Homo sapiens: one gene and its partners. The protein of the gene in region 1 purifies or fractionates together with the protein of each later gene. This does not show direct contact. Each region holds a gene or a part of one and is shown in the gene's direction. Other genes may lie near its edges. The genes, in order: PNLDC1, TRPM7, C1QL1, SIDT2, GALNT12, CSGALNACT2 and TMX1.

The links.
Region 2: the proteins of PNLDC1 (region 1) and TRPM7 purify together in Homo sapiens (affinity purification with mass spectrometry; 2 studies listed by BioGRID and IntAct, with this or other methods). This does not show direct contact.
Region 3: the proteins of PNLDC1 (region 1) and C1QL1 purify together in Homo sapiens (affinity purification with mass spectrometry; 2 studies listed by BioGRID and IntAct, with this or other methods). This does not show direct contact.
Region 4: the proteins of PNLDC1 (region 1) and SIDT2 purify together in Homo sapiens (affinity purification with mass spectrometry; one large-scale study listed by BioGRID and IntAct). This does not show direct contact.
Region 5: the proteins of PNLDC1 (region 1) and GALNT12 purify together in Homo sapiens (affinity purification with mass spectrometry; one large-scale study listed by BioGRID and IntAct). This does not show direct contact.
Region 6: the proteins of PNLDC1 (region 1) and CSGALNACT2 purify together in Homo sapiens (affinity purification with mass spectrometry; 2 studies listed by BioGRID and IntAct, with this or other methods). This does not show direct contact.
Region 7: the proteins of PNLDC1 (region 1) and TMX1 purify together in Homo sapiens (affinity purification with mass spectrometry; one large-scale study listed by BioGRID and IntAct). This does not show direct contact.

Annotation. Positions count from the first base shown.
Region 1 is NC_000006.12:159,817,276-159,821,204, forward strand, and holds the end of PNLDC1 (poly(A)-specific ribonuclease PNLDC1), read left to right. Parts: intron 1-1,279; coding exon 1,280-1,379; intron 1,380-1,670; coding exon 1,671-1,846; intron 1,847-1,978; coding exon 1,979-2,077; intron 2,078-3,178; coding exon 3,179-3,242; 3' UTR 3,243-3,429; downstream 3,430-3,929. UniProt on the Homo sapiens protein: 3'-exoribonuclease that has a preference for poly(A) tails of mRNAs, thereby efficiently degrading poly(A) tails.
Region 2 is NC_000015.10:50,610,298-50,613,797, reverse strand, and holds part of TRPM7 (transient receptor potential cation channel subfamily M member 7), read left to right. Parts: coding exon 1-91; intron 92-968; coding exon 969-1,249; intron 1,250-2,476; coding exon 2,477-2,705; intron 2,706-3,500. UniProt on the Homo sapiens protein: Bifunctional protein that combines an ion channel with an intrinsic kinase domain, enabling it to modulate cellular functions either by conducting ions through the pore or by phosphorylating downstream proteins via its kinase domain.
Region 3 is NC_000017.11:44,962,249-44,965,303, reverse strand, and holds part of C1QL1 (C1q-related factor precursor), read left to right. Parts: intron 1-3,055. UniProt on the Homo sapiens protein: May regulate the number of excitatory synapses that are formed on hippocampus neurons. Has no effect on inhibitory synapses.
Region 4 is NC_000011.10:117,181,743-117,185,242, forward strand, and holds part of SIDT2 (SID1 transmembrane family member 2 precursor), read left to right. Parts: intron 1-64; coding exon 65-229; intron 230-317; coding exon 318-363; intron 364-776; coding exon 777-878; intron 879-980; coding exon 981-1,064; intron 1,065-2,036; coding exon 2,037-2,136; intron 2,137-2,331; coding exon 2,332-2,397; intron 2,398-3,500.
Region 5 is NC_000009.12:98,838,670-98,842,169, forward strand, and holds part of GALNT12 (polypeptide N-acetylgalactosaminyltransferase 12), read left to right. Parts: intron 1-1,332; coding exon 1,333-1,464; intron 1,465-3,500. UniProt on the Homo sapiens protein: Catalyzes the initial reaction in O-linked oligosaccharide biosynthesis, the transfer of an N-acetyl-D-galactosamine residue to a serine or threonine residue on the protein receptor.
Region 6 is NC_000010.11:43,148,445-43,151,944, forward strand, and holds part of CSGALNACT2 (chondroitin sulfate N-acetylgalactosaminyltransferase 2), read left to right. Parts: intron 1-1,342; exon of another isoform or gene 1,343-1,699; intron 1,700-3,500. UniProt on the Homo sapiens protein: Transfers 1,4-N-acetylgalactosamine (GalNAc) from UDP-GalNAc to the non-reducing end of glucuronic acid (GlcUA). Required for addition of the first GalNAc to the core tetrasaccharide linker and for elongation of chondroitin chains.
Region 7 is NC_000014.9:51,246,747-51,250,246, forward strand, and holds part of TMX1 (thioredoxin-related transmembrane protein 1 precursor), read left to right. Parts: intron 1-345; coding exon 346-474; intron 475-2,579; coding exon 2,580-2,625; intron 2,626-2,721; coding exon 2,722-2,823; intron 2,824-2,946; coding exon 2,947-3,019; intron 3,020-3,500. UniProt on the Homo sapiens protein: Thiredoxin domain-containing protein that participates in various redox reactions through the reversible oxidation of its active center dithiol to a disulfide and catalyze dithiol-disulfide exchange reactions.

The DNA of each region.
Region 1 (3,929 bases):
TGGTATAGAAATCTTGTCCCTGACTGGGCAGCAGCCCACAAATGGCTCTGTGCCACAGGAGTAGCCCTTCCTACCACCCCTGTGCCTGCCTGTATGGGTCCTGGCCCCCTCATCCCCGCAGATGTCAGGAGGCCAAGGCAGTGGGGTTAGGCTTAGGTTCTGACACCTGTCTCAGTCCTTCCCAGCCTGGTGTGTGCTTGATTGTCTCTCACTTGCTTTCTTATAGCCATGTAAGCAACAGTGAGGTATGAGGAGAAAGTGTTCAGGTCAATGAATGACATATCCTTTGTTGGGGGCACATAGGCTAGGGAGAGATTAGTGGAACCCCACATTGGAATCTTCAGTGCATTTCCCCATGGCAACACCATCTTTGATGCCTGCAGCCCTGGGCACGTAGGCACCAGAAACACATTAGCAGCGTGCACGCTACAGCACCGTCCTTGGCATGCACGTTAGTTAAGTAGGACTTAGCCAGCCAGGTGAAGGAGCCCATCAAAATTCTAATGTGTGCTTTGGGATTGATGTAGAAATATCTTTTTGGACTATGATCTATTAACTTGGGTACTGCCTATATTTGTCCATTTTAGCAGTGGATGTTATAAATACAAAAGTTCTGTGACACACGGATGGGAAGCTTATTTCTTAAATGTGCCAGCCTAACCCCCTCTCTTGTGGTTTGACTGTTAAAGGGCCCCCTGGTAAGTACGTGTGTGCTGGACAGTGAAGGAGCTAGCAGTGGTGGGGCACCTCAGTGCCTGGTGTCACACATCTTTTATTTCTTTTAATCCTCATGGCCTAAAAGCCCTCCCTGCCTGTCTGTGTGGCCCGTGGTTTTGCCGGGGCCCTGCGCTCAGGTGTGTGTGCTCCCTGGACAGAGGGGGCACTGGCAGTGGGAGGAGGCTGTGGGATGAGGGATGCCCTTTTGGAATCAAAGGTGATGTCTTACCAAGGGGGGACAGCATGGGGCTTTCTCTGAATAGTGGCCTCGCACTGATTCTCTGAGCCTATTGCTGTTTGTCACCAGTGGGACCCTCACCAAACCATCACCAGCAGATGGTGACTGTCTGGAAGCTCTTCTTCTATGTGGCCACGGAGAATGCTTTTAGACTTGCCAGCTGGGGAAGCACCCAACCAGAGCCCCAAGACTTGTGAGGGCAGGAGGGAGGGAGAGCCGTCCGAGGGAGTGTCCTTCTGTTCTGTCACCGGATTCTTGGCTGTGGCCGAGGAAGTGGATGAACTTCTGTGCGCCCGACAGCTTTGGGGTTTTCTGTCCTTGCAGCATCGACCCCGTGCCCGAGTCATCCTTTCCTCAGTACCTTGACGTGCTGGCTCCTTACGTGAACCAAGTGAACCTCATCCGAGCGGGGGTCCCAAAGATCGTGAGTAGATCTCATTTGGCCCCCTCGCCCCATTCAGAGTTCAGAGGCTTTGCTGGGAAGCGGCCAGTGCTCTCTGGGACTCGTGAGAGGGATTTCGGTGGTCGGTGAGATGAGAGCTGGGTTTTTCTTTCCTCTCATGTTTCTCCACTAAAGCCAACATGGACTCATCCTTCCTTCTCTTCCCCTCCCTGCCCCAAGCAGAGCCTTTCCTAGTTTCTTTTGAGATCTTCAGACTGGATAAGAAGTCAGGAAGAACTGTGGAAAATCTCTTGTGTTCTGCATGTTTTCTAGAATTTTTCTGGTCCAGATTATCCCAGTATCCGACCTCCCATCCTCATCCTCAGCGTCAAAAGGTGGCCTGGGGTCAGCGAGCAGCAAGTCTACCATAAGTTTCAGAATCTCTGCAAGTTTGATGTCAGGCGACTCACAAGAAGCCAGTTCTTACTCCTGACCAATAAGTTTAAGGAGTAGGTGCCTCTAAGTCCGCGTCCCCCACCCCTCGTGCGTTCATCCCTGTATCTCTCTGACTCCACCCGCCTGATCACAGCAGGCGGCGCCATCCTGCTGCCTGGCTGACCACAGCAAACTTGTTTTGGCAGTGCGCGGAACATCCTGAAGGAGTACCGGGACCACCCGACCCTGTGCATCTCCCTGTACCGCTACTGGAGGCACTCCCCAAACGTCAACTGCCTGCTCCAGTAAGTGACAGGCTGAGGCCACCTGCCTGTCCTGGGGTCCTGGAGTGCCCGGGGTCCCAGCATCCCAGCATGGTCTGACTCGAGCACAGCTCACTTGCTGGTGTGTGTTGCCAAGGGGGTTGTGTTGACGAGTGTGGTGCCCTGAATGTCCTTCAGTGATGCCGCGTGTCTGTCGAGCACCTGCTGTGCTGGGCACCATCGTAGTTCTAGGGCCTCGTCAGTGAAGCAGAAAATCCCTGCTCTCGTGGAGCTCACGTGCTGGGGGAGACAAACAGGATAAACAAATGGACCCTATAATGTGTTGGGTGACAAGTGTTTATTAAAAATGAGAGAAGGGTCAGGAGTGGGTGGCAGGCTGCAGTTCAAAGGAGCTGATGGGGGTCTTCATTAGAGACTTGGAGTGAGCCAGGCGGAGGGGGCAGCAGGACGGAGCCTTCCAGTCAGGAGGTGCCCGGAGTGTCACGGGGAGAGGCCATTGTGAGCAAAACAGCAAGGAGGGGGATGCAGGAGAAGGAACCAGTGCCCCCCAGCTGGGGGCCACCCAGGGAGGACGTGGGCTTCTCTCAGGAGAGAGGGAATCGCGGAAGTTACAGCAAGAAGGTCTATAACCCGACTCAGGTTGTCTTCCGTGTTGGGGTAGACTGTGGAGGCGAGACGCTGTGAGAGCAGTCAGGAAGGAGATGCTTCAGCTGGGTCACAGCTCGGTGCAGCCAGGGGCAGCGGGGTGGAGTCAGCGACAGACCAGAGAAGGATCAAGTACGAATCCAGGGTTTGAGTCCTGAACAGCTGGAAAGGCAGAGTTGCTGTCAGTTGAGCTGGGTGAGGTTCTGGCTTGCGGGTTAGGGGCACATCCGTTAGAAAACAGCATTGCTGAGGAAGCACAGTGAGCTCCGAGGCAAACCCTTTTTCTTTCAACCTGCGGTTTGCATCCCAGAGCCAGCCTAACCTCGAGAGGCAGAAGTTCAGTGTTGTCGTCGGGAGAGTGACAGCAAGAAAGAACATCTGAGTGCACGGGGCTGGGAAGGAGGAGGGGCAAGCCTGTGTCGGTGCCTCTCGGCCTGCTGGGTGCCCCGGCCACTGACACGTGTCATTGTCTTGCAGAGTCTGTGGCATAGTGACTGCCTGGGCCCTTCTCGCGTTCATCCTTGGAAGATCTGGTACCTGAGTGCAGCGAGGCCTCCTGCGGCCACCCTCGGGTCCCCATGCTCTCTGGGAGGTGTGCTGGGTGTGTTCGTGTAAATCAGATTCTGTTTGCAGATGGATCTGTTTGGTCTTTTCTAGAAATTCTGTTATGTCCTGAACGTGAAATTCTGTCAACACTCTCAATGATAAATCAGTCCTTAGATATCGTACCTGTATGTGTGGTCAGAACTTTTCTTGCTATAAATGCAGGCGGAGCAGTCAGCACCTCGAGATTTAAGCTAATGTCTCAGGAGCAGGTCATTGTGCTAGGAGCTGGACACCAGATGAAGAAAAGGGGACGTTATTTCTGGGGGAAAAACTAATGGCTTATTATTGGCTGTTGTTGACTTAGTTCTGAGAAATGGCCTTCCTAAGTTTAGTAAAGGAAGGATGTGAAGCTTGGAAGAGGGGAAGTCGTGTGCACTGGGGACATTTTTGACAAGTGTTATAAACCGTAAGACATCCACGTGCATTTAGAAACAATGACCCGCAGCCACAGTGTGCACCTTTGACGTTGGCACAGTGGGACACTGTGTCCTCCACAGTGGTCTGCACTACACTCAGCTTTCTCGGTAACTTTTCTCTGTGGGGATCTCGACTCGGCTGGGCTCTTTGCTCAACCTGGAGCTTCACTTGTGGGCTCTGCAAAGCTGATTGAAATTTAGCCTGG
Region 2 (3,500 bases), on another chromosome or scaffold:
GAGTCATGAATCTTTTGGCAATAGGGCAGATAAAAAGGAAAAAATGAGGCATAACCATTTCATTAAGACAGCACAGCCCTACCGACCAAAGGTAAATTTATTTAAATATTATTCTTTCTGGGTTTTTATTTTCTTCTTTCTAAATTACTTAGTATTATTAAACAAAAAAAACTAATTGATTTAGTAAGAATTACCTTTCGTTTTTGGATATGTCCTAGAATTGTCATTTTCTCACACACAGAGATATTAATTATAAGTTAATGATTCTGTTCCTTTTTTTTTTTTTTTTTTTTTTTGAGACAGGAGTCTTGCTCTGTCACCAGGCTGGAGTGTAGTGGCACAATTTTGGCTCACTGCAACCTCCACCTCCCAGGTTCGAGTGATTCTCCTGCCTCAGCCTCCCGAGTAGCTGAGACTACAGGCACCCAGCACTACACTGGCTAATTTTTTGTATTTTTAGTAGAGACTGGGTTTCACCATGTTGGCCAGTATGGTCTCGATCTCTTGACCTCGTGATCCATCCTCCTCAGCCTCCCAAACTGCTGGGATTACAGGCGTGGGCCACCGCGCCCAGCGTACATTTTCATATTTAGGTATGATAATAACCAAATTAAAATGTTTTAATAAATGTTTACCTGACTCCTTTCATTCCAGTTTTACTTGATTAAGAACATGTATAACAAAAATGTTATCTAACCCTTTATTAAAATTATGTTCTATTAGAATATTAGTTGAAATATTTAGGCCCTTAAATTTTGGAAAATGTTTATTGCAAAGGCATTTTTGTTGAAACAGCATTTTCATAAAATGAATTATGAGCTATAATAAAAATCAAGTTTATAAAATTTATGCTATTGTGCAGTTTTATGGAGCTGAATAATGTAAAGATATTTTACTAAAATTTTCACTGACATAAATTTCATATGGCCTTATTATAATGAGCTTTATAACTTTATTTTCCCTGGAAGATTGATACAGTTATGGAAGAAGGAAAGAAGAAAAGAACCAAAGATGAAATTGTAGACATTGATGATCCAGAAACCAAGCGCTTTCCTTATCCACTTAATGAACTTTTAATTTGGGCTTGCCTTATGAAGAGGCAGGTCATGGCCCGTTTTTTATGGCAACATGGTGAAGAATCAATGGCTAAAGCATTAGTTGCCTGTAAGATCTATCGTTCAATGGCATATGAAGCAAAGCAGAGTGACCTGGTAGATGATACTTCAGAAGAACTAAAACAGTATTCCAAGTAAGTGGTATTTTATCATTTGAAAACATTTTAAAAATTCAAAGTAGGTATTGTTTGAGTGGCTGTTACAGTGCCACGTACTTAATGGTGATGTATTTATATGTATAATCTTATTGGTACAATTGACAGAAAATTATATAAGTATATATTTTTTTAATTAAAAGAAACTTTCTGCCTCTATGAAAAAGAGGTTATTATATTTGCAACTCAAGAATTAAATATCTCAGCAAGAAAGAAGAAATGCAGCCTGGGCAACATAGGCAGACCCCGTCTCTACATGAAATTTAAAAATTAACTGGGTGTGGTGGTACTTGTCTGTGGTCCCAGCTACTCAGGAGGCTGAGGTGGAAGGATCACTTGAGCCTGGGAGGTTAAGGCTGCAGTGAGCTGTGATCATGCCATTGCACTCCAGCCTAGGTGACAGCAATAGACCCTGTCTCGAAACAAAGAAGAAATGCCAGAATTCATTTTAATTTTTGCAAATAGTAGCAATTGGATTAGAAAGTTCCATTTGAATTGGTAAGGAAAGGGTGGAAGTGAAGTTGGAGCTGTGTTATAAGAAAATAGACTGAATTCAACTGGGAAGGCACTTCAGAAGCTAGAACTACATACACAGAGTAACGACATAGTTCATAAAAGTTTACAATTTACTTAGAGGGGCAGTGTTGGAATATTAAACTGGAAAAGTAGTTTGTAGAAGTTTTCTAATATATACTAAGACCTCCGGCTCCCCAAGTGGGGTATTTAGAGGGCAGTGATAATTGTTACTGAAAATAACTCTTTAACAGGGATCCTATGGTTACTTAGTGGGACTTCAAGATTCAGATGTTTTTCATAATTAGGTTAGTCCCTAGTCACATTGTTTTTCCTCTCTACCAGGTACCAACTGTTTTCTGTGTTTGAAATACTACATAAACTTTTTTGAACAGAGCATTGTAGCATTGTGAGTTTTGATTCCCTTTGAGATTATAGTTTGATTTCTAGGACCGGGAGAATGTGCTCTGGATTCACCTTCTCAATCTTGTACATAATGCGACATATTTTAATATTTTGTGATTTCCACATAGATGTAGATGTCTGAAAACAGAGTTATGGTTTTAATGCCTCATAATTCTGTAAGTGTGTGTGAGAATATTAAAAAGTAGGAAGTATTAATGTATATAAGAATAGTGGTTTAAAATTGCAGTTTGTTAATCTGAGTATATTTTGGCTTTTATCTTTTTATAGTGATTTTGGTCAGTTGGCCGTTGAATTATTAGAACAGTCCTTCAGACAAGATGAAACCATGGCTATGAAATTGCTCACTTATGAACTGAAGAACTGGAGTAATTCAACCTGCCTTAAGTTAGCAGTTTCTTCAAGACTTAGACCTTTTGTAGCTCACACCTGTACACAAATGTTGTTATCTGATATGTGGATGGGAAGGCTGAATATGAGGAAAAATTCCTGGTACAAGGTATACTTTAGAAATAATTTGATATAAAGCATGTGATTAGATAAAAAGAACAGAAGAATTAGTCTAAATGTGTAGTAAAATGCCTTGATGTGTGAGTGTAATGGTGGGGGGTAAAGAGGGAGCAAGATGGATGATTGGCATTTCATCCCAAGTGGTATAATGGGCTTCTTTTTTCCTCTACTTAACTTTTGAATCCTTTTCAGGTGTCTATAATGATTATGGCCTCTCTTTGAGCTAGAAGGGGAACAAATGGCAAATATTGGAGATTATGGCCCCTAGCAGCCTTGAAAAAAGTTACTACTTTATGAAAAGATTATTCCCAAATTCTGAAATTCAAGACCTATCTACTAATTTAATAATCTGTTACTTTTAAGTTACTTAAAGTATATTGGATGAGTATATTGATATACCCATTATAGATAAGTATATCCATGTGGCCTGTTTTTATGATTAAAAATTTGGGTAAAATGGCATGTACCTTTGGTTTTGTCATGGTGATAGATACTGCTTTGAACTTTGCTTTTTGTTATCTTATATCTTTTAAAATAAGGTGCAGAAATGTAGGAGTCAGAAATCAGGCAAATAGTTTAACCATAGGCCACTGAATAACCAACAGAAAACCTGTTACACAATTACAATTTCTTCATGCTTTGGGATTTTGCAAGTAATAAGTAAAATTTTAGAAATAAACCTTTTTGTTTATAGAGGCACAAGCTGAGTAATCACATTATGACATGGAACACTTGCAAAGAGATTTAGGATAAAATTAAGGACATAGCACCTTTATAAGGCTTG
Region 3 (3,055 bases), on another chromosome or scaffold:
ACGGTGGCTCACGCCTGTAATCCCAGCACTTTGGGAGGCCGAGGCAAGTGGATCATGAGGTCAGGAGATCAAGACCATCCTGGCTAACACGGTGAAACCCCATCTCTACTAAAAATACAAAAAATTAGCTGGGCGTGGTGGCAGGCACCTGTAGTCCCAGCTACTTGGGAGGCTAAGGCGGGAGAATGGCGTGAACCCGGGAGGCGGAGCTTGCAGTGAGCTGAGATCGCGCCACTGCACTACAGCCTGGGTGACAGAGCGAGACTCCGTCTCAAAAAAAAAAAAAAATACAAACATTAGCTGGGCGTGATGGTGCATACCTGTAATCCCAGTTAGTCAGGAGGCTGAGGCAAGAGAATAACTTGAACCCAGGAGGCAGAGGTTGCAATGAGGTGAGATCTCGCCACTGTACTCTAGCCTGGGCAACAGAGTGAGACTCTGTCTCAAAAAAAAAAGAAAAGAAAAGAAAAGATAAAAACGAAAAGAAAAGAAAACCAGGAGAAATAGTGGGGCCCGTAGCCCCCTCTCCCATGTCCTTTATGACTTCTTCCAAATTGCCCAAGAGACTCATTTGATCTCACTAGCCATCCCACTTGTTAGTTTTGAGCCCCTACTAGGAGCCAGATTTGAGGCTTTGTAGGAGTTCAGTCCACTTGCCCTCCAAGACCTCATGGCCTATGCAGGGGGAACATTCATAACATACAACCACACGCCCCAGCGAATACTGTGTTAAAGGTGGGCTGGGAGCCCAGCTGATGACTTTGGTCCCCAAATGTGTTGGCTGGGAGGGAGTGCTTCAGTAGGGCCTACCCTGGTGCAGACCAACCTGATGCAGGGGGAGAAGATGGTGAACCTTGGTCTGCAAAGTGAGGAGATACCACAAGGGAGAATATAAAAGGTCAAGTGTAGGGGAAAGCCAGCTCAGAGGTGGACAAGGACATTTAAATAAGCAGAGAAAAAAATGGCAGGACCAGACAATGTATGGGAACAAAAGAGAGAAGCTTGTATCTCTTGTGACTTCAGAACCAGGGGCCACCCTGAGCACTGCGCTTTTCCTTCCTGGCTTCCTGCCTGTAGAGAGGCTTCCAGAATTTCTTTAGGGAGGCAGAGCTGAATCTGGGCTCTGCCTCCTCTCCGGGCAAGTTCGGGATGGGGAGCACCACCTTCATGCCTGGCACTGAGGCTCCCTCTGTCCTTATCTGAGGCCCACTGGCCCCAGTCCTTAGGGGTAGCCTTGCATCAGCACCCCTGATGGCACCAAGTCCTGGCCATTAGGATGCAAGGAGCCTGGGGAAAGGACTCTGGGTTGGCAGTGGGGCCCTGGGTGTGGTGAGTTGCCTGCAGCTGCCTCCAAGATCCACAGTTCAGGTGGGTTGGAGAGGACACAAAATTAATAAACTGGGCAGGGGGCTTTGTGAGGATGTGCCAGGGCCTGTGGTCAGGGTGCTGCTTATCCAGGGTAGGAGGCTGTGGGGAGGTGAGTATCACCAATGGGCCAGGGGTTTGACAACAGAATCTGAGTGTGGCGAGAGGTGCTGGCATATATAAATTGAAGGTGGTGGTATAAAGACCTAAGAAGGCTGTGCACAGTGGCTCACGCCTGTAATCCCAGCACTTTGGGAGGCTGAGGCGGGCGGATCACCAGAGGTCAGGAGTTCGAGACCAGCCTGTCTAACATGGTGAAACCCTGTCTCTACTAAAAATACAAAAAAACATAGCCGGGTGTGGTGGTGGGTGCCTGTAATTCCAGTTACTCGGGAGGCTGAGGTAGGAGAATCACTTGAACCTGGGAAGTGGAAGTTGCAGTGAGCCAAGATCGCACCACTGCACTCCATCCTGGGTGACAGAGCAAGACTCTGTCTCAAAAAAGAAAAAAGACCTAAGGAGATCAGCCTCTCCCCTGGTGGTGGCAGATGGCCCCCTGGCTATCCTTTCTGGCCCCTAATACCTTTCACAACACAGAGCACAGTGCCTGGCACAGTGGGAATGCAGTTAATGTATGTATGAAAATGCAAGTGTCCCCCATGGGCCAGGCTGGCTCCCCTATGGGAGCCACATCTGTACACCCAAGACCCCAGCATTGATCTGAGGGCAGGAACGTGTTTCCTGGATGCCCTCTCACCCAGTTCCCTTGGTCAGACCATTGCCTCAGTTTCCCCTCCTGGCAGCCCTTGAGGAGCTGATTATACAGCGCTCCCTCATAACAAGGCCCAAACCTGCTTTCCTGCTTCCTTGGCAACCTCATTTCCCCACACTTCCCCTTGGACCCCAGGAGGAGCTGCAGGCCTCAACTGTCTCCAGTCAGGCAGAGAATTGGGACCCCTGGGTTCCATTCTTGGATCCCCCACCATCTAAGGATGGAAGGGCATAAATTCTCTCTGCCTCCATGGATAATTAGGATAATTACGGCAACAATCATGGTGATGAATAAATAATAAACATAAGCATAACAGTTCTGATGCAGTCACATCACCAGGAGATTCCTGATGACAGATGACTCTGTTCCAATGGATTTGGCTATTAAGGAGCACACTGTTTTAATGAGTTAAGGCTAAATTAATCTGGGCAATAAAAATAATTGTTATTAGTAGTAATTTATTAGCAAAGATAATGAAATGCATGTGTAATAATAAATATTACCAGGATTAGGGCTCAGGGAACAATACAGAAGTTGGCTGTTTGCTTTCAGCTCTTCCCTAATAACTCAAAGCCCCATCAAGATCTAATGTTTTTTTTTCTTTATCATCAAAAGACTTTTACAGAGGTGGCAGTGGTGAGGCAAAGTCTTCTCATCCATTTTCTAGACAGAGAAACTGAGCTCCTTGGCAGACAGCATCTCCCCCTTCATTTATTCCCTCCCACCTTTAACTAGACCAGTTTTCCCAGCTAAGCACACAAAGAGTTTCTTCTCAGGTTGGGAAGAAGAGGTTGAGGGAAAAGAAGGGGCTGGAGAAGGGCTTTAAAGGGAGGCCCTCATGCAAATATGTCGGGTCCTCTTCATTGCAGCATCGCGGCTGAGTCAGCAGCTCTGGCACAGCTGACCTGCAGTGCTGCC
Region 4 (3,500 bases), on another chromosome or scaffold:
TCCTCTGGAGGGGCAGGCCGGCTGGGACAGTGCTCACATCCTATCTCCCTGCTTCGGGCCATAGGTTTCAGCGCAAGTACCTCTACCAAAAAGTGGAACGAACCCTGTGTCAGCCCCCCACCAAGAATGAGTCGGAGATTCAGTTCTTCTACGTGGATGTGTCCACCCTGTCACCAGTCAACACCACATACCAGCTCCGGGTCAGCCGCATGGACGATTTTGTGCTCAGGTCTGCAGGGTAGAGTGAGGGGACCACGGGGGCTGGTTCTTCCCCAGGCTCCGGGGGTGACTGGTGGGGGCTCTTCTCTGCCCTGCAGGACTGGGGAGCAGTTCAGCTTCAATACCACAGCAGCACAGCCCCAGGTAACATCTCCCTGTTGATTGCTCGAGAGGAGAAATGGGGGAGCTTGAATATGAGAATGGGAGTGGCCAGCGGTCTTTGCTTGGCCTTTTGAATTGGCTGTTTTCTCCATGGAGGGCTCTCTGGAAACAGGAGCTCTGGCCCTGACATGGTGAGGGACAGACAGCATGGGACTGTACAGAGACATGGAGTCTGGTTGCCTCTCTGGCATTCTGCTGAGTGCCCTGCTGAGGTTGAAGGGAATGGTATACAGAGAAAGGGGCTGCTGTGATCAAGGCCTGTCTCCTCGGAGAGCCTCCACTGCCCACCCCTCAGAGGATTCTGGGTCCTCGCTTATAGGGGACTATTCCCTTCTAGAGGGGCCAAGAGAGCATCCTCATGAGATGGGGCTCTCCCTTCCTTCCTGCACCCTCAGTACTTCAAGTATGAGTTCCCTGAAGGCGTGGACTCGGTAATTGTCAAGGTGACCTCCAACAAGGCCTTCCCCTGCTCAGTCATCTCCATTCAGGATGTGCTGGTGAGTTGCCTGCCCTTTTGCTCTTCCCCAGCAGGCAGCAGGGCTGCTAAAGAGAGGGGCAGGCCAGGTTCCCATCCATCTGCCTCTCCCGCCCCTCTGCAGTGTCCTGTCTATGACCTGGACAACAACGTAGCCTTCATCGGCATGTACCAGACGATGACCAAGAAGGCGGCCATCACCGTACAGGTAGGAAATGCATGTGGCCACGTGGGAGGTGTGGCTGGGCGATAAGCTGTGTAGCTTTCCAAACTTGAGCTCTTCTTCCTCTGCCCATTCCTATCCTACACACGACTGAGTCTTTGGCCTTCCAGTCCCTGTGACTTTGAGTCCCCTGATATATATGAGAGTTGTACCATAATCCCAGTTGCTCTTGGGGATGGGAAAGAGTAGAGTACCCCCTTCTGGCTGTCATACCTACTTCATTCATTGTAACAATAAGAGGGCTGAGCGCGGTGGCTCATTCCTGTAATCCCAGCACTTTGGGAGGCCGAGGTGGGCGGATCACCTGAGATCAGGAGTTCAAGACCAGCCTGGCCAACAGGCTGAAACCCCGTCTCTACTAAAAATACGAAAAATTAGCTGGGCATGGTGGCGCATGCCTGTAATCCCAGCTACTCGGGAGGCTGAGTCAGGAGAATCACTTGAACCTGGGAGACAGAGGTTGCAGTGAGCCGAGATCACACCACTGCACTCCAGCCTGGGCAAAAGGAGTGAAACTCTGTCTCAAGAAAAAAAAGGTCAGGCGCAGTGGCTCACGCCTGTAATCCCACACTTCGGGAGGCTGAGGCGGGCAGATCACCTGAGATCAGGCGTTCAAGACCAGCCTGGCCAACATGGTGAAACCCCATCTCTACTAAAAACATAAAAATTAGCTGGGCGTGGTGATGGACGCCTGTAATCCCAGCTACTTGGGAGGTTGAAGCAGGAGAATTGTTTGAACCCGGGAGGCGGAGGTTGCAGTGAGCTGAGATCATGCCATGGCACTCCAGCCTAGGCAATAGGAGTGAAACTCCGTCTCAAAAAAAAAAAAAATCTTGTGAGGATTAAGTAAAATATATCTATGAAGAATTTAGCATAATGTCTGGCCCCAGAACAAGTATTTAGAAAAGAATGATGATGATGATGATGAAGAAGATATTTATCATCATCATCCTGCAGCGCAAAGACTTCCCCAGCAACAGCTTTTATGTGGTGGTGGTGGTGAAGACCGAAGACCAAGCCTGCGGGGGCTCCCTGCCTTTCTACCCCTTCGCAGAAGGTACATTTTGTGCCCTGGGCCTGGCTAGGGATGGGGAGGTCTTGGTCACTTTCTGGGAGCAAGAAGAGCCTGCGTGGCTGATTGGTGGACCTGATAGGACATGGGTTTTTGGCTCCAGTCTCTCAAAGGCCTGATCCCACTGACTCTAGCCAAGCTCCAGGCAACTAGTTTACCACTTTGACATTTTACTTCCAGATGAACCGGTCGATCAAGGGCACCGCCAGAAAACCCTGTCAGTGCTGGTGTCTCAAGCAGTCACGTGTGAGTGCTGCAGGTGGCTGAGAGGGGATGGACAAGCCTCTCTGGCTCCTGCTTTCAGACCTGGGATATAGGGTGTGCCCTGAAGTGGGTGATGAGGATGCAGATATGCTGGTGGGGTAGGAACGGGGAGTGTTCTTGGCAGGCTTCTAGATGGGGAGGGCCGGGAGGTGAGTTCCAGTGTGATGTGGTACAGAGAGTTCATGACTAAAGATGGAAGAACTGAGGTCCAGTTCACTTTCTGCCACTTATCAGCAGTGTAACCTGATTGTAAGAAAGAGCTTTAATTTTGCTTTGTTAGCATAGTTATAATCTTATTTATTCTGAAGGATGTTTCTTAATCTCATATTCAGAAACATACCCTAATTTGTCATTGAAACACTGCTATAAGATTGAGTCTCAGTTTCCCTGTCTCTATAACAGAGGGAGTAAAATTTGTCCAGTTAATCTCACTAAGTTATGAGGGCTAGCACAAAATTAGCAGATAAAATTAGCAGGAAAGTACCAGGCCCCTACTCAGTGCTCAATAAATATTTACTGAATGATTAAATGGGGCCCTAAGGGACTGTGATAGGAGGGGAAAGAAGGTGCCTCTCTTTCTTTTTTTGAGATGGACTCTTGCTCTGTCACCCAGGCTGTAATGCAGTGGCAAGATCTCTACTCACTGCAATCTCCGCCTCCCGGGTTCAAATGATTCTCCTGCCTCAGCCTCCTGAGTTGCTGGGATTACAGGCACCTGCCGCCATGCCCAGCTAATTTTTGTATTTTTAGTAGAGACGGGGGTTTCACCATGTTGGCCAGGCTGGTCTTGAACTCTTGACCTCAGGTGATCCGCCCACCTTGGCCTCCCAGAGTGTGGGATTACAGGCATGAGCCACCGTGCCCAGCCAGAGGGTGCCTCTCTCTCTCTCTCTTTTTTTTTTTTTTTTCCGAGATGGAGTCTTGCTCTGTTGCCCAGGCTGGAGTGCAGTGGCGCAATCTCGGCTTACTGCAAGCTCCACCTCCCAGGTTCACGCCATTCTCCTGCCTCAGCCTACCGAGTAGCTGGGACTACAGGTGCCCGCCACCACGCCCGGCTAATTTTTTGTATTTTTAGTAGAGAAGGA
Region 5 (3,500 bases), on another chromosome or scaffold:
CTGCATGCTCCATGGCAGGGTGCCTGCTTGCCCTGCATTTGCATAACTAGTAGGGCTGCTTGGCAATACAAGAAGGTCTTGCTCTAAGGCTTCTCATCAGGCCACTTCATGGAAGTCTCTTCTGAGTCCTTCCAGCAACCCTGCAGGGTAGCAATAAAATTCTCATTTTATAGATGAGAAAACTGAAGCTCAGAGAGACGCTGTTGGAAGGAACTTGTCCAGGCCCTGTGGCTGATAGGAGGTAGAACTGGGCTTGGGGCCTGTACTCTGCAGCGCACCTCTTGCTCTGCTCTGCAGAGCCCATGGGTTCTCAGCTGGACTCCCACTCAGCCCCTCTCTGGCTCTGGGCTCCATGGTCATTTGCTTCTGCCTCCTCCGTCTTGCCCAGCACCATAGAGTAGAAACACCCACTCTTTCCTCATGCACAGTCTGGAACCCATAGTTCCCTTTTCCTGAGGGTTCCCAGAGAATATTTTAGGGGGGCACTGAATGCACCCTTAGGCTTCATGTCCAAGGCCAAGTGCTAAATGGATACTTGGCTGAAGCTGGGGGCGCAGTGACTTTCACCAGTGAAAGAACTCTGGGAAATAGCAGAAATCTGAAATCTTATTCAAACATGTACTTATTATTACCATTTTGTTCAATATTTAACTTGTCAGCTTTTAATTGTTTAACATGACAGTGCAGGTACGGTAATATTTCTGCACTCAGCATTTTTCTTGTGGCTGCACATTTGCGATACTAAATAGAGGCTTGCTGTATTTAATTATTCAAAAGCTCTCAGTCATTAGTTTTGCCCATAAAACCAAACTTGCATAAGTATTTCTTTTTGCTTATTTCATACTGAGAACATGATTACATCTAGAATATTTACCTGTGTTTGAAAGTGGATATTCAGATATTAGTAGTAAACCAGAAAGTCATGGCATATGTTTCGGTGAAACTGACATTTCCCTGGTTGGGTTTCAGGATGACTTCTGATCACAAGCATGGGTCACAGGTCCGGGATCCATAGATGCCAGTGCAGCCCCAGGGCTTGGCTCCTTCACTCCATCAGCAGGCGGGTTGTCCTCTACCCTTGTGCACCTGGTCACACCCCCCTGCCAACAGAGCACCTAGGAATGGAATTGTCTGTGTGACAGCCTCTCATACTAGAAGCTAGAATTAGGTGCAAGGATGTTTTCTATCCTCTGTGCTCCACACAGGGCCTGGCATGCGACGAATGCTCCATCAAAGCTGGCTGGTGGTTAGTAAGTGAGCATCAGTGAACACAGGGGCTTTGAAAGGAAGCACTAGGACCCATGGGGTCTCACTGTTTTGTTGTTTTCTCAGGAACCTTTTGGGGATGTGACAGAGAGGAAGCAGCTCCGGGACAAGCTCCAGTGTAAAGACTTCAAGTGGTTCTTGGAGACTGTGTATCCAGAACTGCATGTGCCTGAGGACAGGCCTGGCTTCTTCGGGATGGTGAGTGAGGGTGGTGGGCCCACGGCAGGCAGGGACTTCCCTGGCCTCTGGGTCTGCTCTGCAAATCCTGGGCAAGAAAGGCCACGTCATGGGGAGCACTGGCTTCCTCCACTCCCACCCGCCTGCCCACCCCCCACCACCTTTTTATCCACTGCCCTTCTTTCTCCCTGTGAGCGTCTGGGCCGTAGGTGCAGAATGTCAGAGCTGGAAGCCATCTCAAAATTGACAACTATTTTGTAGGTAAGGAAACTGAGGCTTATCTGGTGTTTCCATGTCCTAGTTTTTACCAACGCCTTATCATATTACTTCTAGTCTCAATGGCTGGACTAGTTAATAATTCCAAGTTTGGAAGTCTACAGAGGCAATAGTGGGTATAGGGGAGTCACTTCGAGTATTTCAAAAAACCTAAAAAATGTTTTTGGGATGAGACCAGATAAAATGTCCAGTGTCTTTTGTTTTTGCTGGGAATGACACCAGCTTAGCAAGGTCTCCTCTGCTGTGATGTGTTGATCAGAAGTGCTGGTGTTCCATTCTAGAAGTCTTTGATACATATAAAGCAGGATATTCATGTTACATTCTATTTTCATTATGAAAATATTCAAACATATAGAAATGCAGAGAGAATGGTATGAGAATGGTATAATGAATACCATCCCTGAGATTCTAGAATTTTCAAGATCCTGCCTCTCTTTATCTCTTTCTCTCTCCTGTACTTCACCTCCACATTTTCCTCTTTTTAAGCAAATCCCGGGCATTGTGTCATTTCTCTCCTCTGCATTTTATGCATTTTCATAACATTTGGACATTATCTTACAAAACCGTAGAAATGAACAAGTATTTCTTGGTATCATTTAATGTCTAGTTCTAATACATATTCCCCCAACTTTTCCAGTTTCTCTTTGAGTGGCTGGCTAATTCGAATTGGGATCCAAACAAGGTGCACACATTGCATGTGATGGTTGTGTCTTGTCTCCTAAATCTCTTTTAATCTAAGGCAGCCCTCTTCCTTTTTCTTGTTAATATCTTTAACTTGTTGAAAAAACAATATGTTACCTGTGGAGTGTCTCACTCTTGCAATTGCTATTTTTTTCTTTGTGGTGTCTTCAAGTTGTGCCTCTCTCCCCCATATTTCTTTAAGATAGAAGTGAGTTCTAAAGGTTTGATTAGAGTCAGGATCCACCTTTTTGGCAAGAACACTTTGTGGGTGATGTTATGTGTTCATGTTGTGTCATATCAGGAGCATAGGAAGTATGGTCATCTTTAGTGATAAGGTTGACCAGTGGGTTAATGGAGTATCCCTCACCTGGACCAGTCATTATAAGACCCCCATCAGCCTCTGTCTCATGTTTTTAGTAGCCACTGATAACCATTGCCTAGGCCCATTATTTCAAATGGAGTTGCCAAATGGTGATTTTTCTCTTTCATTTCTTCCACATTTATTAGCTGAAATTTTTCATAAAGAAGAACACTCCCTCATTAACTAAAGCAATTTGGTATATGTGAGTTTTAGAATTCATACAGAAAAGGCACGACAAATTCTTTTTTTTTTTTTTGAGAGAAAAGTCTTGCTCTTGTCCCCCAGGCTGGAGTGCAATGGCGCGCTCTCAGCTCACTGCAACCTCTGCCTCATGGGTTCAAGCAATTCTCCTGCCTCAGCCTCCCGAGTAGCTGGGATTATAGGCACCTGCCACCATGCCTGGCTAATTTTTTTTTTTTGTATTTTTAGCAGAGACGGGGTTTCACTATGTTGGCCAGGCTGGTCTTGAACTACTGACCTCAGGTGATCTGCCTGCCTCAGCCTCCCAAACTATTGGGATTACAGGCATGAGCCACCATGCCCGGCCAAGGCATAACAAATTCTTAAGTCTTTTCTTTATTTGCTTATTTTCAGAGTAAGAGTTGGTATTTTAGTTTCCTCCAGTTGTATCTACTGGGTTGTTTTTTTTTTTGTTGTGGCTCATTGTTTTTTTTGGCTTTTTCTCTTCTTGAGTGTCATTGTAAACTAATGGGTGTTTAAATAGCCGGTGTGCTTCAAT
Region 6 (3,500 bases), on another chromosome or scaffold:
AAGAGGATTGTGTTTAATCTGTACATTAATTGGGGAATATTACCATTTTAGCAATATTAAGCCTTCCAATCATGAGTGTGGTGTCTTTCTGTTTATTTAAATCTTAACTTTCTTCCAACAATGTTTTGTAGTTTCTATGAATACAAGTCTTGCAGTTCTTTTGTTAACATTATTCCTATTTTATTCTTTTTGATGCCATATTGTATACAGGATTGTTTTTTTAATTTCATTTTCAGATTGCTTGTTGCTAATGTAGAGAAATACAATTGATTTTTGTATATCGATATTGTATCCTACAACTGGCTGAACTCATTTATTAGTTATAATAGATTTTTAGTGAATTCCTTAGGATTTTCTGCATACAGATCATATCATCTGCAAATAAGGATAGTTTTACTTCTTCCTTTTCAATCTGGATGCCTTTTATTTCATTTTCTTGCCTAATTGCCTTGGCTACAACCTCCTCTAGTACAATATAAATAGAAGTGACAAGAACAGACATCCTTGTCTTATTCCTGATCTTGGGGGAAGGCATACAGTCTTTCATCATTAAATACAATGTTAGCTATGGGTTTTTTGTAGGTCCCTTTTCTTAGATTAGGAAGGTGTCTTCTAGTTTATTGAATGGTGTTTGGTTTGGTTTGGTTTGGTTTTTTGAGATGGAGTCTCGCTTTGTCGCCCAGGCTGCAGTGCAGTGGCGTGATCTCGGCTCACTGCAACCTCCGCCTCCCAGGTCCATGTGATTCTCCTAACTCAGCCTCCTGAGTAGCTGGGACTGCAGGTGCATGCCACCACCACACCCGGCTAATTTTTTGTATTTTTAGTAGAGGCGGGGTTTCATTGTGCTAGCCAGGATGGTCTCTATCTCCTGACCTCGTGGGATCTGCCCACCTCGGCCTTCCAAAGTGCTGGAATTACAGGTGTGAGCCACCGCACCCAGCCCCTATTGAATGGTTTTTATTAGGAAATGGTGTTGGATTTTGTCAAATGCTTTTTCCATGTCTGTTGAGATGATCAAGTGAATTTTGTCTTCTATTGATATGGTATATTGCATTAATTGATTTTCAGATGTTAAACCAACCTTGCAGTCCTGGGATAAATCTTATTTGGCCATGATGTATGATTCCTCTTATATATTGCTGGGTTCGTTTTGCTAGTATTTTGTTGAGGATTTTTGTATTTATATTCATATAGGATATTGGCCTATGGTTTTCTTTTAATGTCTGGATTTGGTAGCAGGATGATACTGACCTTATAGAATGCTTCCTCTTCTATTTTTTGGAAGAGTCTGTGAAGATAATTCTTATTTAATAATAATAATTCTTATTTAAATGTTTGCTAGGCTGGGTGTGGTGGCTCACGCCTGTGATCCCAGCACTTTTCGAGGCTGAGGCGGGTGGATCACCTGAGGTCGAGAGTTCAAGACCAGCCTGACCAACATGGAGAAACCCCATCTCTACTAAAAATACAGAATTAGCCAGGCGTGGTGGTGCATGCCTGTAATCCTAGCTACTCGGCAGGCTGAGGCAGGAGAATCCCTTGAACGTGGGAGGCGGAGGTTGCGGTGAGCTGAGATCGCGCCATTGCACTCCAGCCTGGGCAACAAGAGCGAAACTCTGTCTCAAAAAAAATAATAGTAATAATAAATAAATGTTTGGTACATTCCACCAGTGAAGCCTCTTGGCCTGGACTTTTCATTGTGAGTAGTTTTTTTATTATTATTAATTCAATCTTTTGTCATATAAGTCTATTCATATCTGGTATTTCTTCTTAAATCAGTTTTGTTAGTTTCTATCTTTCTAGGATTTTGTCCATTTTATTCAGTTATCTTTTGAAGAGATTTAGATAATAATGAGCAAAAATCTTAGTTACCAATGTCGTTAACATTAATGATGTTTTTCATTGCTTTGTATAAATCCATATTCCTTTCTGGTATTATGTTCCTCTGCCTAAAAGACTTACAGTACAGGTATGATGGTGATGAATTCCTTTAGCTTTTTATGTAGAGAAAGTATTTTGCCTTTTTCAAAGATAATTTCTCTGGGTATAGAATTGTAGGCTGGCATATTTTTCTTTTTAGTTCTTTAAAGATCATTGTTCCACTGTCTAATTACTTTCAGTTTTCAAAGAGTAATCTGTCATTATTATCTTTTGTTCCTTGTATGTGATGTGCATTTTTCATGTGGCCAGTTTAAAGATTTTCTCTTTACATTGGATTTGAGCAATTTGATTATCATGTACCTTGCTATAATTTTCTTTATGGCTATTTGGGATTGGTTGAGCTTCTTATGTGTGTTTATAGTTTCCATCAAATTTGGGAAATTTTCAGCCTTATTTGTTTAAGTATTTCTCCTGACTCCTTCCCCCTTCTTTGGGGACTCCAGTTACATGTATATTAGGCTGTTTGAAGTTGTCACAGAGCTTATCAATGCTTTGTTTATATTTTTGATTCTTTTTTCTTTCTGTATGTTGCATAGTTTCTTTTGCTACATCTCTAGTTTACTAATATTTTCTTCTAAAATATCTAATCTGCCATTAATCCCATTCAGTGTATTTTTCATCTCAGACACTGAAATTTTCATCTCCTGAAGTTTAACTTGGATCTCTTTTATGTCATTCATACCTCTACTTAAATTTTTGAACATAAACATCATTTTAAAAATACAGTTATGATAGCTGTTTTGGTGTCCTTTTTCTGCAGATTCCCACATCTGTCAGTTCTAATCATTGGTCAGTTTTAATTGTTGATTTTTTTCATTATGGATCATATTTTTTTATACCTGGTAATTTTTGTTGAGATGCCAGATATTGTGAATTTTATTTTGTTGAGTACTGGATATTTCTGTATTCTTATAAATATTCTTAAGGCTTGTTGTGCTATTACTTGGAAATAATGTGATCCTTTCAAGTCTTGCTTTTAAGATGTATTGGCAGGATTAGTGCCATGTTTAGTCTAGAGCTAATTATTTCCCACTACTGAGACAAGATTTTTTTGAGTGCTCTACCGAGTGCCCTGGGAATTCTGAGGTTTTCCAGTCTGTCTGTTGGGAACATGCACTAATCCTGGCCCTGTATGAATGCTGGGTTCTGTGTCCTCTAATTTTGTGTGTGGTCCTTTCCTTAGCCCGTTAGTTGCCTCATAAGCCTTTACTTATCAGTGCTCTGCCAAATACCCATGGGATATCCTATTCAGATTTCTGGAGTTCTCTCTGTGTGCAGCTGTATCCACTCTGGTACTATATGCTTTAATCCTAGATACCTTGGTCTCTTCAGACTATGAGCTGCATCCCATGAACTCAGGGAATCTGCTGGGCTCTGCTTAGGTTCCCCTCCTTGTGTGGCTCAGAAACTAAGGCAGTAAGCTGGCAACCACTTGTTTCTTGTTTCTCTGGGGATCACTGTCCTTTGTTACCTGATGTTAAATATCTTGAAAATCATTGTTTCATATTTTGGGTTTGTTGGCAGGAAAAGTTGTTTGTTTGTTTTTGGTTGTTTCAAGA
Region 7 (3,500 bases), on another chromosome or scaffold:
CTATTCTAATAATTTTTATATAATTCTTTTAATATGTGTATTACACATAAGGCTTAAAAGTACTTTCCTGAGATTTATCTACTTACTGTATTTCATAGTTTCATTACTTGGAAGAATAACAGTAATTACATTTTAAGGCTTATGATTTAAAAAAATGTAACCTCATTGTTAAATTGGGGGCTAAAATGTCATGAGTAGGTAAATAGTATAATTTGCTATTAATACTTGTACATTGCTAATGCTTTTGAATGTTAGAATTGACTGTAAAGTGAAGTGAAAAAATAGCAAAATAAATATTAAATTATTTCTCAGTGCTGGATAATATTTAATTCTGATTCTCTTTAGTTGTAAAGATGGTGAATTTAGGCGCTATCAGGGTCCAAGGACTAAGAAGGACTTCATAAACTTTATAAGTGATAAAGAGTGGAAGAGTATTGAGCCCGTTTCATCATGGTTTGGTCCAGGTTCTGTTCTGTAAGTATGAGGGCTTTTTCTCTTACCCATTTCATAATTAATTGGAACAGATAATTATATTTTATGTAAAGCATTCATACTCAGTTTGTTTCTTGAGCTGTTAAGGTATATCCACATTTATTACATGTTTGATTTTTTTTTTTTTTTTTTTTTTGAGATGGAGTCTTGCTCTGTCGCCCAGGCTGGAGTGCAGTGGCGCAATCTCGGCTCACTGCAAGCTCTGCCTCCTGGGTTCACGCCATTCTCCTGCCTCAGCCTCCCGAGTAGCTGGGACTACAGGTGCCCACCGCCACACGTGGCTAATTTTTTTGTATTTTTAGTAGAGACGGGGTTTCACTGTGTTAGCCAGGATGGTCTTGATCTCCTGACCTCGTGATTTGCCCACCTCGGCCTCCCAGAGTGCTGGGATTACAGGTGTGAGCCACTATGCACGGCCTACATGTTTGATCTTTTTAGTTTGACCTTCTAAGTCAAACATATTTTCATGCTTCTTGAGTTAGAGAAGGCATTTTATAGAAGTAAGTTGTACACCTTTTCAGGAATATTTTAGCTTGCTAGATTTGGTCATATGTATCATCAAAAACTAAATGCCCCTAAGAGTCTTCACAGTGTAATGGGTAAAGCTATCACTCGAGTGTAATAATTTGAATGAGTAGGCTCAAACTTGTACTCATGCTACCTCCAGACTTCAATTTGTCTTTTAATGTTCTGTCTCCATAGAGACCGTCAATAATTGCCGATACCAACTAAATTAATTACATAAACTTCAACTCTTGATGTCAAGCGACTGAATTATGTTTGGTTGGTTATTCCACCTGTCTGATAACTTCTTATATGAATAGTGTGTATAAACGGTGACCGTAATAGTGTGCCTAAGCACTGAGCTTTATAGATATCTAGAGGGTAGATGAATTTCCTCGTAGCAACTGGCTATGGAGTGATAAGGATTGGAAGTAGCAAGCATGCTTTCTGCTTTGCTGTTGGAGTACAAGGCCTCACTGGTCATGTGAGAGACCTCTGGGAACAGTGAGTTTTGCTGAGGTCACCATGGACTGATCCTGTGTGGCCATCTGTCTCTTCCTGTCCTCTCACCACACTTACCTTTGGAGGATAGGGAGTTGGGACAGTAATCACATAAGAGAAAAATGCTCTAGATTCTGGGGATGGGAGAAAGATTAGCCCTGTTAACACTCACCCATTGAACTACCATGCCCAACTCAATTTTGGATCCTACTGTTTCTGAAATAAATTACTGCAGACTACAGTGAGGCTATACAGTGCTTTATGTTTCAGTTCCTTGTTTCTCTTCTCACTTGGCTTTTAAACAACAGAAGCAACATGATTAAAATACCTTTCTGTGTCGAACTAAAAGTATAACTGATTTTTGTTCTCTGAAATCTCATCTCATAAATGAATCTTGTCCTTCCAGTAGAAGAAAGTAGTTGCTTGTAAGTCTATTTTCAAGCAGCTACAATTGGGAACTCACAGACCTTTCTTATTTCTGAAACATGCCTTTTTAAAACTGGCCATTTAATTATGTAAAATACTAATTTTTGCTTATATGATGACTTAGCATTTATTTCCTATGTAATAATTTTGTATATCATTAAAAGATGTCAAACTAATGCTCTTGTAAATTTTAATTAATTTCAATAAAAAAGAGGGATAGTTCTTAAATGGAAAGAATTGGCTTGACAATTGTTTCCAGTCCTTACTTTAGCCTCCCTTTGGTCTTGCTTTGAAGGCTTTTAAGGGTGAGTAAGAGTTGCCTTTTCCAACTGGTTTCATGGAACTTGTAACCCTTTACTCAGTGTATTGGAGAAATCATCAGATGAAATACAAAATATTAACATCAAAACAGTGGGAGAAAAGGAAAAAAATACTGTCAAGTATTTTTATTTATGAGGCTGTCACATGGTAGTGTCAATTTAGAAACAGTTTTCATGAAGAAGGCTTATTACAGGCATGAAATCAGTGATGTGTCACTAGTCTTGATTAACAGCAATAAAATCTGTCATATTGGGGAAATTATAGAGTAGAAAATAGTATGTATAGACAAATCTGTGTATGTTACTCAGTTTTTTAATCATCTCTTTTATTTTTAGGATGAGTAGTATGTCAGCACTCTTTCAGCTATCTATGTGGATCAGGGTATGGACTAAAATATTTTTATCTTAAACATTTTTACCACTATCACTTTAACAAAAATGAACAGATTTTTAGTTTTTTTTTTTCTTTTGATTTTAGACTTGCCATAACTACTTTATTGAAGACCTTGGATTGCCAGTGTGGGGATCATATACTGTTTTTGCTTTAGCAACTCTGTTTTCCGGACTGTTATTAGGACTCGTAAGTATTTCATTTTTGGAGTGCTAGGAAGAAAGATATTTAAAAATGTGATTATTTAAAATAGTTACATTAGCTGTGGCATATATTCTACATTCAGATTTCTTACAATGTTTATTTTTACAGTGTATGATATTTGTGGCAGATTGCCTTTGTCCTTCAAAAAGGCGCAGACCACAGCCGTACCCATACCCTTCAAGTAAGTATATTTTAAAATGTTTATTTTTTATTCACGATAGTCCTATTCATTTCTGTAATCACAATCACACATTTCACAGGTTGCTCTTCCAGCTTAGAATTCTAACTGTGGATTGTTGGTCTTTATCAGCTATGGCATAAAGGAAGGTAGAGGAGATGTATATTTCATATAAGAATGTAGCCCAGTGGATTTTGGAACATTGTTATTTTCTTGACTCTTATATTATGGGGAATTTTAACATTGCATATAGCATGTAGCTATTTAATAATATTTATTTGGTGTCGTTTTATAAGTGGAGTATATTCTACTCTTGAAGTCTTTCATTAGTATACCGGCCGCCACATTTGAAGATTATTCTTTGAATGCCAGCCAACTGTAAGTTTTTTCTGGTAGGATATTGGGAAAAGCAATCCCTATAGTTGATTTAGGATGCCACTGACACTGAACTGTACTACAGAACAATTTAAATAATTACAAGCAT